Linked DNA regions of Homo sapiens: region 1 is linked to region 2. A link means that fine-mapping ties the variant in region 2 to the expression of a gene that starts in the linked region. Tissue or cell type: pancreas. Region 2 holds a variant in brackets; the other region holds the start of a gene. All regions are shown on one strand. Distances are between the middles of the regions.

Region 1 (4,156 bases), 27 kb before region 2:
ACTGCTGTTCTCTCCCAAGGCCTTGGGAACTCCTGCCTCTTTGTTGTCTCAGCACTCCCTTCACAGTTTACAAGAGGCTTTGGGGGAGGGCTTTACCCCCCGGGATAATGGGAGGCGTGGAGCCACGGTTTGCTGCGGTCTTTGCTCTCTGGGCAGTGAGGCCTTCTGTTGTTTACCTTAGGCTGCCTCTGAAGCTCCCAGATCCCTGCCTAGACATGATCTCACTCTCTCAAATCATCCCTGCGAGGCAGACAGGAGTCTGGGTCCAACTTCCCCCACTTCACAGGTGGGAAAACTGAGGGATTCACACATGTGTGTGCCGCAAGACACACACACACACACACACACACACACACACACACACACACACAGAGCAAATATGTTGACAAGTTGCTCTGCAGTCCTGGGGTCCTGTGCCTGCAGTTATTTGGAAGGTGAGAGGTCCATGATAGGGCCTGGCCCAGCGGCGTTCAGCAAGTGCCTCAAAATTCATGGGCCTTCTAGTGATATCCCACAGCCTAACACAGGGCCCTGCCTCCAGGGAGCCTGTGGTCAGTATCAGCAGGTGAGAGGAGCCTAAAGAGATGCATCCTGCGTTGCTGAAGTTCCTGAGTCCAGTTCTAAGGCAGCTCTACAGGCACATTTCGCCAGGCATGGTGGCTCATGCCTGCAACCACAGCACTTTGGAAGGCCAAGGTGGGAGGATCACTGAGGCCAGGAGTTCAAGACCAGCCTGGGCAATACAGCAAGACCCTCGTTTCTACAAAGAATTAAAAATTAAAAATTTAGCCAGGCGTGGTGGTGCACACCTGCAGTCCCAGCTACTCAGGAGTCTGAGGCAGGAGGATGACTCGAATCCAAGAGATCAAGTCTGCAGTAGGAGCTGTGATCACGCCACTGCACCTCCAATCTGAGCAACACAGTGAAACCCTGACTCTAGGGGATAACAAAAGTCACATTTCATGAGGGCAGGCCTTGCGTGTGGTAGCAAGAGCTATGGTGGAGAGGGACCACCCCTGAGGGTTGGTGGGCTGCCTGGGGACGGTGCCCAGTGCTGGACAATCCACACAGCTCCTCTCCAATTGTTGTGGCTTCCCAACACCCCTGTAAAAGAAGAATTGCTATGATCCTGCTCTACAAATAAGAAAATTGAGGCCCACAGCTCACCCAGGAGCACAGAGCAAGCCAGTCAGCAGTGGCTGGCCATCTGGCTGCAGGTCCTGAGCTTTGTCCACACCACCAAGCCACAGTCTCCCTAGCAGGGAGGCGCACAAAACTATCAGAGGCAGAGGAAAGGGGTGGCCTCTGCCAGGTGAGGAGCCAGACGGCCTGCTTCGCAGATCCCTTCCAGCTGGCTTTGCCTTCCAGTGCTGAGGTGGGGTGAAGGAGGAAAGGCCGAGCTGGGAGAGGAGCAGGCGCTCGCCACAACCACCCCCACCCTGCTCTCCACGCGCCAGGTCCTGCACGCTGGGTGGGAGGGTGACGACAAGGATGGAGGAGCAGGGCCCCACCCCCGCCCTCCCAGGGCGCACCATCTGCAGCAGAGAGGGCCTTGAGCTGCGTGGGAAATGCGGTAGGCAGAGGGACACTGATGAGGGTGGGCCGGCTGACGGCAGCCTTCTCTCAGCCCCGGACCCCTCCCGCCATCCCCAGCCCTGCCCCCTCCCTCCTTCCAGCGCCTGTCACTCTTCCTGCCCAAACCAAGCATTTAGCACTTAGCCTCGAACCCTCAGCTGACTCCTCATCTAGGACTCCGTCCATCTCTCCAACTATTGCAGAATCTCCTTCAAGGCAGGGGTTTATGTCCCCCACCCCACGGGCCATGTGACATTTATAACTCTTTGGTGGAATGAGAAGAAAGGTATTTGGGATATGATCAACTCCGGCAATGCCATTGTGTGTTTACGGCAACAGCGGGACAGTGGTTCCAGGGGGCGGCCCCGGGCCTCCGTGACGTCACCGGATTGTCGCGTCACCGTCGCCTACCCCGGCGGCGCAACGCGCCCTGCAGGAAAGATGACGTCACCGTCGGAGCTCCTGCAGACCAGTGCGCGCTCGGGGAGTTGGCGAGCGGGTGGCGGCTGGGAGACGTCCCGAGCGCACGGGACTGACAGGCGGCAGAAGCCGGGCGGGGTCCGCTGGGCTCCGGACCCGTGCCCCCCCAGTTCCAGGGCGGCCCCGGGCGGCCCCGCCCCCTCGGTGAATGCCGCGGGCCGGCCAATCCGGGCAGGCCGCGGCGCCGCGCAGCCTATCAGCGGCCAGAGCTCGCGTGCGCTTCCGCGTTCGCGTGCGCTTCCGCGTTCTCGTGAGCTCCCGGCCCGCTGCCGCAGGGACTGGGAGCGGGCTCCGCAGCGCACTCTAGCCCGCGGCTCGGCTCAGTCGGTCTGCGAGGATCCGGCCCGCCGCCCCCCGGGGGACCCGATGGCCTCGGAGGGCCTGGCGGGGGCGCTGGCTTCCGTGCTGGCTGGCCAGGGGTCCAGCGTGCACAGCTGCGACTCGGCGCCGGCCGGGGAGCCGCCGGCGCCCGTGCGGCTGCGGAAGAACGTGTGCTACGTGGTGCTGGCCGTGTTCCTCAGCGAGCAGGTGAGCGGCCGCCCCCGGGCCCGCCGGGCCTCGGGAGCGCGCAGCCAGCCCAGGTGGGGACAGAAGACCCAACGGCCACAGCCAGCGCTGCCGCGTGCGTGGCGCTTCCCAGTTTTGCAAAGCACTCCCACTCCCACTCGCATCTGTGTCCTGCGTTCGTCCCGATATGCAGAAGAGGAAACTGAGGCCCGGGGCCTGTTTGTCTCATCCGACTAGGCCTCATTCCTTCCCTTCCCCAGAGTCTAGCGGAGTGCCCAGGGCCCCTCAGATAGCAGTGGCTCAATCCCGGCTTACCTTCAGGCCTTTGGTGCTGATGCCTGTAGTGGGCGATGTAATGACAACTAGACGGGGCCAGGGCCATAGGGCGGGGTTGTACAGAGCGGAGGTGGGGGTCGTGTTTCAAGCCAGACCCCAGTGTGAGGACCCATCACAGTTTGTAAACCACGCCGTTGGAGGCGAGAGATACACAGTGGCAGGTACAGACGCAAATCAATCCAAGACAGACAGACACATGGTGACCCTCACTCTGGGGCCTCATCTCCAGCCCCTGAAGCGGCTTCCAGGAATCTCAGCCCTTCCTGAAATGGAAGTCTTCCTAAATCCAGAGAGAGACGAATTGCAGAGAGGAGAGGGCTGCAGCCCCCAGCGACACGAGGGCAGGTCTCCTGGAGCGCTAGCTGGGTTGAGAGTGTCCACCCAGAGGGGAGTCTTGGGCGACTGTGTTTGAGATGCCCCCTGGTCCCGGGGCGAGGGAAGGCTGTGGCAGGAAGTGAGGATCCTCTCTCCTCTCAGGATGAGGTGCTACTGATCCAGGAGGCCAAGAGGGAGTGCCGGGGGTCGTGGTACCTGCCTGCGGGGAGAATGGAGCCAGGGGAGACCATCGTGGAGGCGCTGCAGCGGGAGGTGAAGGAGGAGGCGGGGCTGCACTGTGAGCCCGAGACACTGCTGTCCGTGGAGGAGCGGGGCCCCTCCTGGGTCCGCTTCGTGTTCCTCGCTCGCCCCACAGGTATGGCCCACCTGGAGGCAGTGTGAACAGGGCCAGTTGACACCTTTCCCCCAGCTCCTCGGTGAGGTGAGCCCCTCTACAGCCAGTCCTGTTATGGCTGGCACAGCCTGGCATGGGCAGATTCCAGCCTTTGGGCTGGGGGCCTCTCTCCTGGGTCAGGGATGTCTGTTGACTCTGCCAGAGCTGCACTTCTCTCCACACAGACCCTCCCTGCCCCATCCCCCACATCTCCCCCAGGTGGAATTCTCAAGACTTCCAAGGAGGCCGATGCGGAGTCCCTGCAGGCTGCCTGGTACCCACGGACCTCCCTGCCCACTCCGCTGCGAGCCCATGACATCCTGCACCTGGTTGAACTAGCCGCCCAGTATCGCCAGCAAGCCAGGCACCCTCTCATTCTGCCCCAAGAGCTACCCTGTGATCTGGTCTGCCAGCGGCTCGTGGCTACCTTTACCAGCGCCCAGACAGTGTGGGTGTTAGTGGGCACAGTGGGGATGCCTCACTTGCCTGTCACTGCCTGTGGCCTCGACCCTATGGAGCAGAGGGGTGGCATGAAGATGGCCGTCCTGC
Region 2 (4,143 bases):
CTTTCCCCCTGAGTCCCCAGAGTCCATCGTGGGTTTTTTGTTTGTTTTTTTGTGACAGAGTCTTGCTCTGTAGCCCAGGCTGGAGTGCAGTGGCACGACCTCGGCCTACTGCAACCTCTGCCTCCCAGGTTCAAGCGATTCTCATGCCTCAGCCTCCTGAGTAGCTCGGATTACAGGCGTGTGCCACCATGCCCAGCTAATTTTGTGTATGTTTAGTAGAGACGGGGTTTCGCCATGTTGCCCAGGCTGGTCTCAAACTTCTGAGCTTAGGCAATCCTCCCGCCTCGGCCTCCCAAAGTGCTGGGATTACAGGCTTAAGCCACTGCGCCTGGTCCCTTGTGACGTTCTTATGCCTTTGCGACCTCATAGCTTAGCTCCCACTTATGAGTGAGAACATATGATGTTTGGTTTTCCACTCCTGAGTTACTTCACTTAGAATAATAGTCTCCAGTGCCATCCAGGTTGCTGTGAATACCATTAGTTCATTCCTTTTTATGGCTGAGTAATATCCCATCATGTATATGCTCTAAATTCTCATGAATTGAAAATCCTTTGGGACCTAGGGTCAAACCTGCCCGTACTACATACAGTTCCCAAACCCTGTCTCCAGCACCCCTTAGGGTTCAATGACCTTGACATTTTCCCGAACAGCCTGGGAGCTCTTTTTGGACAACGGGCACGTCAACCTGGTCACTGCTGTGTTCCCCATGCTCAGAGCAGGGTTAAGCCCCCCAGCAGTTTCTGAATGCCTTGTATTGGGTATGTGTGCAGAGCCCATTTCTTTCTGCCCCTCCTAGTCTGCCCTCCTCTGCTTCTCCTTCACAGACAACAGTACCTATTGGGAAAGTCCTAGAAACCTGAATCCTGTCACCACTCTCCACTCATTGGTTTCCTGTAGCTCTGGGCTTCAGAGGAATTGTCTCTGTCCCACCATTTTCTCATTTGCTAAGAAGATGACAGTGATCTGTTCTGTTGACCTCATAGGTTTGCTGAAGGGATAAAATGATGTTGTGGATGCAACAGAACTCCTACAATGTAAAATAATCGTTCACATTTGAGGGGTTCTTATCCACTTTGCTTATTTCAGCCACAGGGGCTAGGAACTCAACCAGGGTACTCAGGCTAGGCCCCAGCTCCAGTCGCAGGTTCACAAGTTGCGCACCCTCCAACTCACCTGGTCCCTCTGACTGCACGCCTCTTCATGTGCCCACACATGGTTCTGCTCCAGCCAGGTGGGGCTGGCCCCTCCCCACGTAAGCACCCACACCTGCAGGCAGTCCTCCTTCTGGTCTTCCCGTCAGATCCGCAGCCCCTCTCCCACCTCCCACCCGCAACACGCAATTCCCTGTCTTTTCCCCTTGGGAGGCCTTACCAAGTCAACCAAGACCAAATTCCCATCTTCCTCCCTTGGCCTCCACTTGACTCGTCCTCCAACTGCCATTTCTCCATTCCTTAGTTTCCCCTGCCTGATTCTTGGCAATCAGCTCACCACACACTCACATCCTGCTGACCTTTTCTGTGTTCGGCCTCCCCATTGAACCATGAGCACCCTGCCCCTTGGGAGGGACAACCATGTCTGATGTTGAGCTTGGCTACCAAGGCGAGCACGTTGGGATTTGGTGGAGGGCTGGGGCAGTCTTTCCTCCCAGCCAGTTCTCTACCAGCCTCCTCCCTGAGGTGTGAGTTCCCTCTGGCCCCAAACACAAGGGTTCCTGCCCCCATCACAGAGTCCCTGAAGGAGAGGCAGACAGGCCCCTGTCTAGACAGCCCCTGCTTCTGTGGCCCAGGCTTGGGGGAAAGAGTACTGCGGGGCTGTGTCTCCAGCCCTCCAGCCCTAGGCGGCCCCTGCATTGGAACCCTTGCTCCCAGGGCTTCCCTCTGCCTGATATGGCTTGTCTCGTTCACCCAGGTCTGGTGGCTCATAAGGAAAAGACAGATGTAGGGACCCAATGCAACCTTTTAATTCCAAGCAGAGTCCCCCTCCCCCAGCATGGTCACACACACAGTGGAAAGGGATGTCAGGGTCTGGGCAGGAGCAATACCCAGACCTGGGCAAAAATATAGATATCATTATATACACACGTGGACTGGAAAGAAGTCAAGCTGGGGGTGTAAGGTAGGGCAGGGGCAGGTGAGGAAAGCAGCTGGGGGGGCCCCAATAAATTACATTCTTGAGAGAGCATAGTGTGTGGGGGGGTGCGTGGGTGTAGGTGAGAGCTGGTAGCCAGGACACTCCAAAATGTGCCAGGCCTGGCCTCTTGACCCCATC[C/T]AAGGGAGGCGGAAGGCCCAGCTTCTGCCCGGTGCCTGGCTTAGTGCTGGAATTCCCATTTCGTGGCCTGGAGGCAGGTGGAGGGCCAGGATCGTGTGTAGGCGGCATCTCCACCCTAAGCCCAGGCTTCTGGGGAAGCCGCAGGGCTGGAGCAAAAGGCTTGGAAGCTCGGGGTTTGCGAGCGGAGGTCAGGGCAAGCTGAAGTGGAGGGGTGACCTCCCTGCCGGAGGCTGAGCTGGGGCCTGTTCCCACTAGAGTCAGAGGAGCAGGAGGCTGCAGTGCAGGAAAGCTGTCAGGAGTGAGTATGGGAGGGCTGGGTGGGCGACACAAGAGCCTGGAGCTCTTTCTGCCTGGCCGCTTCCCACCCCTGCATCTTCCCTCCAGCTGTTCAAGACAGCCAACCGGCCTAACCACCAATGCCCCTCATTCCTCCTCACCCTCTGGGGTGAGGGGCAGGGAGAGGGCGCAAACATGAACTCTGTGTGCCAGAGCCCAGACTGGCTTTGCCCTGTGCAGGGAGGGCCAGGGACGAGAGCAGGAGGCCCCCAGCCTTGTGAGGGGGAAGAAAGTCCATAGCTCACTGCCGGGGACTGCAGAGGTTTTGGCCCCCCACTCTACCTGAGGAAAGGAGCCCACCCTATTTCCACCCCACCTCCTGCCCCTCCCAACCCGCCGGGGAAAAACCCTGAAGCAGCAGGGGTAAGGGGGCCGTCCCGGAGCAGGTGGGGGCCATCAGAAGAGAGAGGCCTTCTTCTTGAGCTCATTCCGCTTCCACAGAGCCAGCTTGCCAAACTCTTCAGGGGACATGGCAAATACCCTTGAGAAGTCCTCGGCAGACAGATGCCTCTACATGGGGGAATCGGGGCAGCTCAGCATGGAGGGGGAGGGGGCTGTGCCCAGTGACCTAGGGGACACTCACTCATAGAGGCCCCAGATCTTCCCCCAGGCAGGAGAGTGCCCGTGGACAGCCCCGCACCCATCCAGGGCATCTTCCTTGCCTACCTCAAGCCGCATCCGATCCACCCCCGGTGGCAGCTTGGTTCGCCCCTTGTTGGTCACCACTAGCATTTCATAGGGATAGATCTGGGGGTGGGGGGAGGGGCAATCTTAGGCTCACAGAATATCCTGTCCTTCGACTCCCTAGGCCTCCCACATCAACCTGCAGAGGCCACTGGGGTTCATGCCATCTTGCCCTCTGTCTCCCCCAACTTCCCTGCCATCCCTCCCATCTTCAACACCAGGAAGACCCCGCAGCACATTCCACTTGCCTGGCATCTCCCCAGCCTCCCGCCCCGCTACAGGCGCTTGTGTCCCCTGCCCCTCACCTTCTGCTCCAGCACACAGGGCAGGGAGTTCCCCCGGTCCATCCTCCCCCTCTGGCCCTCTCCGTTCTGGGGAGACCAAAGCCGCAGTGAGCCAGAGCGGGGCAGGGAGACCTTCCCAGCCTTACCCCGGCTTCTTCTTCTTCACCAGGCAACTCTGTGGCCCCACACCCCCCTTCCCCTGACACTTTCGGGTGCCAGGACCCAGCTTCTGCTGCTCTGCCTGTTCCCCTCCAGGAGGCACTCACCTGCAGGCCTGCGGGAGAGAAGGGGCATGGGTCAGATGCAGCTCTGAGGTCAGCAGGCCAACACGCCTGACCTCACCAGACCCCTGCCCACAGCCCAGACCCCGGCTGCCCAGGGACCTGTGTAAGCCCCTTCTCCAGACCCCGGCACCAGGCCCCACTTCTCACCTGGGCTTCCAGTCTCACTCCCTGATGGGCTGAACTCTGTGGACTGTAGCTAGAAAGGACACAAAGGAATCAGAGGCAGTCGGGGATATTCACCTTTGGTCCCCTTCACTTTGGGGGTCTCCCCGCTCCCTGAGGGTGC

What was found. PIP is the estimated chance that this variant, and not a neighbour inherited with it, causes the effect.
Region 1: NUDT18 starts here. The variant in region 2 is fine-mapped to the expression of NUDT18 in pancreas (GTEx, PIP 0.99).

What each region holds. Positions count from the first base shown.
Region 1 is chr8:22,107,566-22,111,721 of GRCh38, reverse strand. NUDT18 (nudix hydrolase 18) reads left to right here and starts at 2,303. Exons shown (of 3, transcript NM_024815.4): 1 at 2,303-2,583; 2 at 3,376-3,589; 3 at 3,827-4,156. The coding sequence starts at 2,422. RefSeq lists a silencer at 1,950-2,729 and an enhancer at 3,189-3,962.
Region 2 is chr8:22,080,322-22,084,464 of GRCh38, reverse strand. DMTN (dematin actin binding protein) reads right to left here. Exons shown (of 16, transcript NM_001387751.1): 12 at 4,005-4,053; 13 at 3,840-3,847; 14 at 3,595-3,660; 15 at 3,272-3,352; 16 at 1,940-3,115. The coding sequence ends at 3,002. Among named protein-coding and RNA genes, the nearest start is that of FHIP2B, 6.8 kb to the left of the region's middle. The variant C/T (reference allele first, on the strand shown) is at 2,270.